Linked DNA regions of Homo sapiens: regions 1 and 2 are each linked to region 3. Evidence: fine-mapped expression QTL. A gene starts in region 3. Each other region holds a variant in brackets. All regions are shown on one strand. Distances are between the middles of the regions.

Region 1 (2,844 bases), 140 kb before region 3:
TTCTTGTCTCCTACAATAGACACTGTTAGTAACTGGACTCTACCCTCCCATGGAATTTCCCTCACTTCTTTTCTTGCCTGATTCAATCATAACAACCCTGCTGACTTTCAATTGTGCCTACAATTTTCACCTTAATCCTATCAGGTCCTGAAGAAATTTTTCCAGATGAATTAGTGATCATCTCCCAACTATTTGGACTTTGGTGTCTGCCATTCTGTATATAACAGAACATACTATAAAAGCACAGTCTGTACTGGACAGAATCATTTACTCCCTTTCCTAGACCAGCCACGTAGCTTGGCCTGATCTGGAGGCTAAAATATGGAGCCCCATTCATCATCTTTGGAAGAGCTGTCTTGAAGGCAGCATGTCCAGAGCCCCACATGCCACCAGACTTAAGCCTAAAGTAAGCTGGGATTGGGCAATGGACAACTTCACTGCACTGAGCCACCACTGCCAATGTCCCCAGTTCTGTGCACATATGAAGTACAGTGCATTCAGGCTGCCATGCTGGGCTTACATAGGCTAGAGTCATTTCTGAAGTTTAAAGGGGACAAAAATGTTGTTGAGACCCACACTCTGGGGCCAATGGCTGAAACCACAGAAGAGCTACACTCACTTGAAAAATAAGTGTATGCTGAGATCGTTCGAAGATGGCTGAATAGGAACAGCTCCAGTCTAAAGCTCCCAGCGTGAGCAACACAGAAGACAGGTGATTTCTGCATTTCCAACTGAGCTTTGAAGAGAGCAGTTGTTCTCCCAGCATGGAGTTTGAGATCTGAGAACGGACAGACTGCCTCCTTAAGTGGGTCCCTGGCCCCCGAGTAGCCTAACTGGGAGACACCTCCCAGTAGGGGCCAACTGACACCTCATACAGCCGGGTGCCCCTCTGAGACGAAGCTTCCAGAGGAAGGATCAGGAAGCAACATTTGCTATTCTGCAATATTTGCTGTTCTGCAGCCTCCACTGGTGATACCCAGGCAAATAAGGTCTGGAGTGGACCTCCAGCAAACTCCAACAGACCTGCAGCTGAGGGTTCTGACTGTTAGGAGGAAAACTAACAAACAGAAAGGAATAGTATCAACACCAACAAAAAGGACATCCACACCAAACCCCATCTGTAGGTTACCATCATCAAAGACCAAAGGTAGATAAAACCACAAAGATGGGGAGAAACCAGAGCAGAAAAGCTGAAAATTCTAAAATCAGAGCATTTCTTCTCCTCCAAAGAATCACAGCTCCTCGCCATCAACGGAACAAAGCTGGACAGAGAATAACTTTGACGAGGTGACAGAAGTAGGCTTCAGAAGATCGGTAATAACAAACTTCTCCGAGCTAAAGGAGGATGTTCAAACTCATCGCAAAGAAGCTAAAAACCTTGAAAAAAGATTAGACGAATGGCTAACTGGAATAAACAGCATAGAGAAGACCTTAAATGACCTGATGGAGCTGAAAACCATGGCACAAGTACTACGTGATGCATGCACAAGCTTCAGTAGCCGATTTGATCAAGTGGAAGAAAGCGTATCAGTGATTGAAGATCAAAAGAATGAAATGAAGTGAGAAGTTAGAGGAAAAAAGAGTAAAAAGAAATGAACAAAGCCTCCAAGAAATATGGGACTATGTGAAAGGGCCAAATCTACATTTGATTG[G/C]TGTACCTGAAAGTGACAGGGAGAATGGAACCAAGTTGGAAAACACTCTTCAGGATATTATCCAGGAGAACTTCCCCAACCTAGCAAGGCAGGTCAACATTCAAATTTAGGAAATGCAGAGAATGCCACAAAGATACTCCTCAAGAAGAGCAACCCCAAGACACATAATCGTCAGATTCACCAAGGTTGAAATGAAGGAAAAAAAGGTTAAGGGCAGCCAGAGAGAGGTCAGGTTACCCACAAAAGGAAGCCCATCAGACTAACGGTGGCTCTCTCAGCAGAAACTCTACAAGCCAGAAGAGAGTGGGGGCCAATATTCAACATTCTTAAAGAATTTTCAACCCAGAATTTCATATCCAGCCAAACTAAGCTTCATAAGTGAAGGAAACATAAAATCCTTTACAGACAAGCAAGTGCTGAGAGATTTTGTCACCACCAGGCCTGCCTTACAAGAGCTCCTGAAGGAAGCACTAAAGGAACAACCGGTACCAGCCACTGCAAAACATGCCAAATTGTAAAGACCATTGGTGCTAGGAAGAAACTGCATCAACTAACAAGCAAAATAACCAGCTAACATCATAATGACAAGATCAAGTTCACACGTAACAATACTAACCTTAAATGTAAATGGGCTAAATGCCCCAATTAAAAGACACAGACTGGCAAATTGGATAAAGAGTCAAGACCCATCAGTGTGCTGTATTCAGGAGACCCATCTCACCTGCAGAGACACACATAGGCTCAAAATAAAGAGATGGAGGAAGATCTACCAAGCAAATGGAAAACAAAAAAAGCAGGGGTTGCAAACCCACTCTCTGATAAAACAGATTTTAAACCAACAAAGATCAAAAGAGACAAAAGAGACAAAGAAGGCCATTACATAATGGTAAAGGGATCAATTCAACAAGAAGAGCTAACTATCTTAAATATATATGCACCCAATACAGGAGCACCCAGATTCATAAAGCAAGCCCTTAGAGACCTACAAAGAGACTTAGACTCCCACACAATAATAATGGGAGACTTTAACACTCCACTCTCAACATTAGACAGATCAACAAGACAGAAAGTTAACAAGGATATCCAGGACTTGAACTCAGCTCTGCACCAAGTGGACCTAATAGACATCTACAGAACTCTCCACCCCAAATCAACAGAATATATACATTCTTCTCAGCACCACACTGCACTT
Region 2 (2,844 bases), 53 kb after region 3:
CACAGAGATTCTTAACCTGATGGGTTTCAGAATGTCATCTTAAAATTGGATGCAAATTGTATGGGTGAGGGTTTTTTTTTTTTTCCTCCTGGGGATAAAGTCATAGGTTTTGTTAGCATCTCAAAGGAGTCTGTGAGCCCAGGATGATTAAGAATCAGTGATTTTGGCTGAGTACAGTGGTTCACACCTGTAATTCCAGCACTTTGGGAGGTAGAGGTGGGTAAAGAAAAGGAAGAAGAATCAGTGACTTAGATTTTCTTCACTCTAATTAAGGACCTTTACCTTTTTTGTTTGTTTGCTTTGCTTTGTTTTTTTGAGACAGGGTCCGGCATTGTCACCCAGGCTGGAGTACAGTGGCTTGATCTCAGCTCACTGCAACCTCCACTTCCTGGGCTCAAGCCATCCTCCCACCTCAGTCTGTAGGTGTAGCTGAGACTACAGGTGCACACCCTGCTAAGGGGTACACCACCACACCCTGCTAGGAGGTACAACACCACACCCTGCTAAGGGGAACTTTATCTTAAAAATGTTTTTAAAAAACATCCTAATTGGTCTCTAACCTAGAGATGTGCTTAGTTACTGATACCTGGTCCCTTTTAAGCCTGTGTTCATCATCCTTCTTCCAGATTCCTTTCTCTCTATCCAGAAATAGGAGCAGTACTGGGCATCAACCTCCTCTTTACTTCCCTTATTTATGTTTATTTGGCAACCCCATACTTAACCTTAAGTATAAGCTTAGGAAGCCTTATTTATACTTAATTGTAATAATGTGATATTATTGAGCAGAGTTGGAAATCCATACTTCCAAGGCAGTCTCTCATGTTTTCAGTCAAATTTTTGGTTTGGAATGCTCAAGTCCAAAAATCAAGTTTAACACATATTTACTTAGTAAACACTTTCTATATGTAAGAACTTATACTCCATTTTGAAGGAGAGAGGAGGTGAGCAGGACATACCTACAAGTCAAAACCAGTTCCCACCTTCACTGAGATGGGACATTTTGGAAAATGCACGAAGTGCTGTGGGAATTCAGAGAGGAAGAGAGTATTTCCTGCTGGAGAGTGCAGAAAAAAAACATCCCGATGACATCGTAGGTGGGCAGCATTTCTTGTCACTGGCAATGCTGTAAACCCTCCTTTTCCACATCTTCAAAATAAGGTGCTGGGCCTAGAAACTGACACCTGCTCAGAAAAATTCAAAAAGTGAATGTAGGAGGAAAAATCAGCCTTTGTCATAAAATGACATAGGAAGAAAGAGTGGAAGCAACTAGTATAGGACAAGTTGTGCAAGAACATGAAGTAGTAAAGGAGATAAAATATTATTATTTGAATAAATATGAGAAATTTTGAAAACCATTAGTAATCC[A/G]GAATCTTTCATCTTTGCTATCATATTATTTTTAAAATTTGGTTTTAAAGCAACACAAGGCAATGTGCATATTTTCTTAAACTTTAAGAAATAGAAAAATTGTTTTGCTAGAAATATGTACGGACCTTAGGGGCTTTTCTAAAATGTAGGTTGAGAGGTGTGTGTATATGCTCTTTTCTTCTTACTAGATCACATGTAATCAAGCATCTACTACTGATATGAGTCATAAATTTGTGGGGTACTTTTAGATCAATGCTTACAAAGCAGTTGCACATTCATTACAAATCCTGTACAGTACATTAGCATAGGCTAATAAATTTCTTACTCTCTATTCTTAGGTTGAACCAGCCAAATTTTCGAGACAGCTCACGGCTTAGAGGAAGGTTCATCTAAATAAAGGCCGGCTAAAGTGACATTGCAGGGATTAAATCCTTCTTTGGCTGCCTGTGTGACCAGAAGGCTTATTTGCAAGTTTCTTCTTTCCTGGGGTCCAGATTATTAGGTCTCCAGCGCCCTGCAGCTTGACAGAAAGAGAAGCATGAAATGAAGGTCAGAGATGAGATCCCGCAGCAGGGACGTGGGGGCCTCCCAGGGGCATTTACGCACCAGAGTGCAAGATTCTCTGGCCATCAAGGGAAATAGCAAACAGAAGCCTTTGTCCTGGGGCACAGCCACCTACCACAAAGCATCAGACTCCACGTCTGGCCAGAAAGTTCCTGGAGTCCCATCAGGCCAGTGGGTATGTAACATGTGCCTAATTGTACAGCTAGAGCCTGCAAGTTCAACGTGAGGGAAGGTGGGAAATGTCTTGAGTGAGGCGAGCAGCTCCTGGCTGGGCTGGGCAGACTCAGCTACCACGTTCACTGCCTTCCTCTCACTAAAGCCGAGAGGGAGGCTGCTCAGCTCTCAGGAAAACTCTTTTGAACCCTGGGCACCTGCTGTCCTCAGTTGGCATCTCCCACCCTCTGAGCCTCTTCTGCTCCTGCACAACCTGCCTCTTCGCTGAGATGGAGACGTGAGCCCCCGTGGACGATGACTGCAGTGTATATGAATGGAGGTGGCCTGGTGAACCCCCACTATGCCCGGTGGGATCGGCGCGACAGTGTAGAAAGTGGCTGTCAGACCGAGAGTAGCAAGGAGGGTGAGGAGGGACAGCCCCGCCAGCTGACGCCCTTCGAGAAACTGACACAGGACATGTCCCAGGATGAGAAGGTGGTGAGGGAGATCACGCTGGGGAAACGGATAGGCTTCTACCGAATTCGAGGGGAAATCGGAAGTGGAAACTTCTCCCAAGTGAAGCTTGGGATTCACTCCCTAACCAAAGGTAGGATCCGACTTCCCAAGGGTCATCCCTGGCAGTATTGGGACCTAGTGTAGGAAAGGGGTTAGGTGGCCAGGGCCAAGGAAGCAAGTAAAGTGACCTCAGCAGAGCCCCTGCAAGGCCCACATCCTGTGCCAGCCGCCTTCTGTGGTCTTCTC
Region 3 (2,500 bases):
GGGGATGTCTCTTTAAAAACAAATTTTCTCGAGAGAACCCTTGTTCTACATAAATAGATGACCACTCTCAGAAGCCAAGGAAGCAGTTGTTTCAGGTTCTTTCAATTTTCTTTCCAATCTCAACCGTCAGTGCACGGAGCTGTCCAAGGTTTTTATTTCTTGCCCTTCCCGTTCCTGACCCCTTTAATCATCACACAAACAGGCAGCAGAGACAAAGTAATGAAGAACACCAACTCTGGAGTCAAACAAACTGGGTTAGAGTCCCAGAGCCAGCATTCAACAGTTGTGTGATCTCGATCAAATCCTGTAACCTCTCTGGGCTTCAGTTTCTTCATCTATCAAAACAAGGATGACAGTAACAGTACCTAACCCATAGATTATCATGAGGATTTAATCAGTTACTCTTTGTAAAAGAGTTTATTACAATGCCTGGCAAATAGCAAAAAAGGAATTTTGGGGTTCCCTAGTTTCTACCATAAAAGAATTGTAGACATGGGTTATGTTGCTACTTAACAGTTTTGCTCTTGTAAATATTGCTCTGGCAATCAATACAGGATGGAGAGCAGGAGGAAGTAGAAAGAATGCTCGCAGAACTATGACTTAGGGTGTCTAGTCCTGGCTCTGCCATTAATCAGTTGTGTGACCCTTGCTAAGTTAACTGACCCCTCTGAACTCAGTTTTTTTTTTCTCTCTCTGTAAAAGGAAGGGCTTAAACTTCAGTAAATAACCGGTATGTTTTATTTAGTATTTTGCGAATCCCATTTCCAACTCTACGTTCAATCCAGTGACGGTATTTCTAGTTTATAAACTAGAAAAATAATCTTTGGCATCTGAGGGTCACAGCCGAGAGTATCTCCCTAGCAGGAGATTAGGGAGCCAGTGACAAAGTGGCACCAGGGGAACCGATGTATGCCAGGAATCCAGACAGAGGGTGACATTAGCACTTCTTTCTGCAGAACCTAAACCCTGCCCGACTCACCCGGAGGAGCTGTCACGGTGGTTTGCTGGAAACCCCCTTTCTGTTGGGAGGATTACTGGGTCACGGTTTCCCAAGGACATGGAAACCCTTGCTGAAGCGCTGGAACCGCTCGGCACGAGGCGTACGTCGGTGGGAGCTGTGTCAGCCCGCTTTCGGCCGTGTAGCTGCTCCCATCCAGACTCTAGAAGGGGTCCTCTTTGCGTCAGGCCCAATCACCCCCCTCCCCGAGCGACTGCACTGGGTGTCCCTGCGCCGCGCGTCCCCTCCCTCTCGCCCCTCCCTCCTGGCTGCCATAGAAACCAGCTTACAAGGTCCAGGCCGGCGTCCGGGTGCACTACAGGCCCCCCGTCCCTCCTTCCCCACGCCAGCCCCTCGCTCCGGATTGGTCCTTCAGGAAACGCTGTGGGGCGTCTCGGTCCCCGCTGCGGAGCCGGCCTAGGCCGGAGGGCGGGGTTTGCCCTGGGCCGCTGCCGGTCAGGTCGGCCGCCCCTGACAGCTCCGGGAGCCTCAAGCGCGACAGCGGCGCCCTCACCTCGGGACATCCACACACCGACCGCTCCTGCTCCAGAGGCAACAACCCAGCGCGCCTAGCCTGGCGCCGTGCAGCGAAGCCCAAGAGCTGGCCTCGCCACGAAGGTAAGCGAGGGGCTGGGGGACTCGCCGCCAGCACCCCCACCCCGCCACCCTTCCTCTGCTAGGCTGCAGACCTGGGTGGCTGAGGAGGAGGCGCCTCTCCTCCCCGCGACCCAAGGAAGAAAGGAAGCCCTGCCACGGGGTGTCTGCGAAGTGGGGTCAGAAGAAGGTTAGGCGCTTTCTGGGGCGTACCCCCACACCTGCCCAGGCCGATCCGCAAGCGAGAGGAGGGGGCATTAGAGCCAGGGCGAGAGCGTGCTCGCGCGTGTGTGCCCGTGTCATGTGTGGTGCCCGTGTCATGTGCGGCGCCCATGTCTATGTGCGCGCGTGTGTGCACCCATGTCTCTGTATGGTGTGGACACTCGTGTCTGCGTGCGCGTCCACACGTGAGCCGAGGAGCGCAGCTTAGCGCCTAGCGTTGCGCACAGCGGGTGCGCTGGACCAGAGCCCTAAGGCACCAGACCAAATCTGGAGCGTTTGTTACAAGGGCAGAAGACCGGCGTGATCTCCCCACGCGCGCCGGCCGGTGCTGCTGGTGGAGAGAACTGACATCTAACGCATGTGGCCCAGGAGAACAAAACCTTCCATTGCACCCCACGCCGCGACTCTCCCCAGCGAAAGGTGCTTCTTTTGGAAGACCGCACGAAGTAAGGAAGAGCCTCTTTTCCTCTTCCTGGATATCCCTCCAGGAATATTAGAAGCTCCAGGACTCCTTGATACGACCAGGAAAAGATCGCAACCGGGTCTTTAAAATATCGATTCCAGCCAGCTTCTGCGTGCTTGACACATCTTGGCAGATGGAGAAGTCAAGGCAATAGATAACATGGGCAGCAAAGATTCTGCTATAGCACTTCTTTCCTTTCTGTTTTTTCCTTCCCTCCTTCCCTC

Which allele goes with the higher level. Positions count from the first base shown, and alleles are read on the strand shown. Sizes are in standard deviations (SD) of each study's normalised expression. Not every link is listed here.
With allele G in place of C in region 1, the expression in lymphoblastoid cells of the gene that starts at base 1,429 in region 3 is lower (small effect, 0.36 SD a copy in TwinsUK).

What was found. PIP is the estimated chance that this variant, and not a neighbour inherited with it, causes the effect. A credible set is the group of variants that fine-mapping cannot tell apart.
Region 1: its variant is the best candidate, but not a certain one, in a credible set for the expression of NIM1K in lymphoblastoid cells (TwinsUK, PIP 0.63).
Region 2: its variant is the best candidate, but not a certain one, in a credible set for the expression of NIM1K in lung (TOPMed, PIP 0.64).

Annotation. Positions count from the first base shown.
Region 1 is chr5:43,053,004-43,055,847 of GRCh38, forward strand. The region is part of intron 2 of ANXA2R-OT1 (ANXA2R overlapping transcript 1); the gene reads right to left. Among named protein-coding and RNA genes, the nearest start is that of ANXA2R-AS1, 12 kb to the left of the region's middle. The variant G/C (reference allele first, on the strand shown) is at 1,653.
Region 2 is chr5:43,243,379-43,246,222 of GRCh38, forward strand. NIM1K (NIM1 serine/threonine protein kinase) reads left to right here. Exons shown (of 4, transcript NM_153361.4): 2 at 1,704-2,689. The coding sequence starts at 2,398. Among named protein-coding and RNA genes, the nearest start is that of NIM1K, 53 kb to the left of the region's middle. The variant A/G (reference allele first, on the strand shown) is at 1,366.
Region 3 is chr5:43,190,797-43,193,296 of GRCh38, forward strand. It overlaps NIM1K (NIM1 serine/threonine protein kinase), which reads left to right and starts at 1,429. Exons shown (of 4, transcript NM_153361.4): 1 at 1,429-1,615. RefSeq lists a silencer at 1,270-1,409 and an enhancer at 1,745-2,454.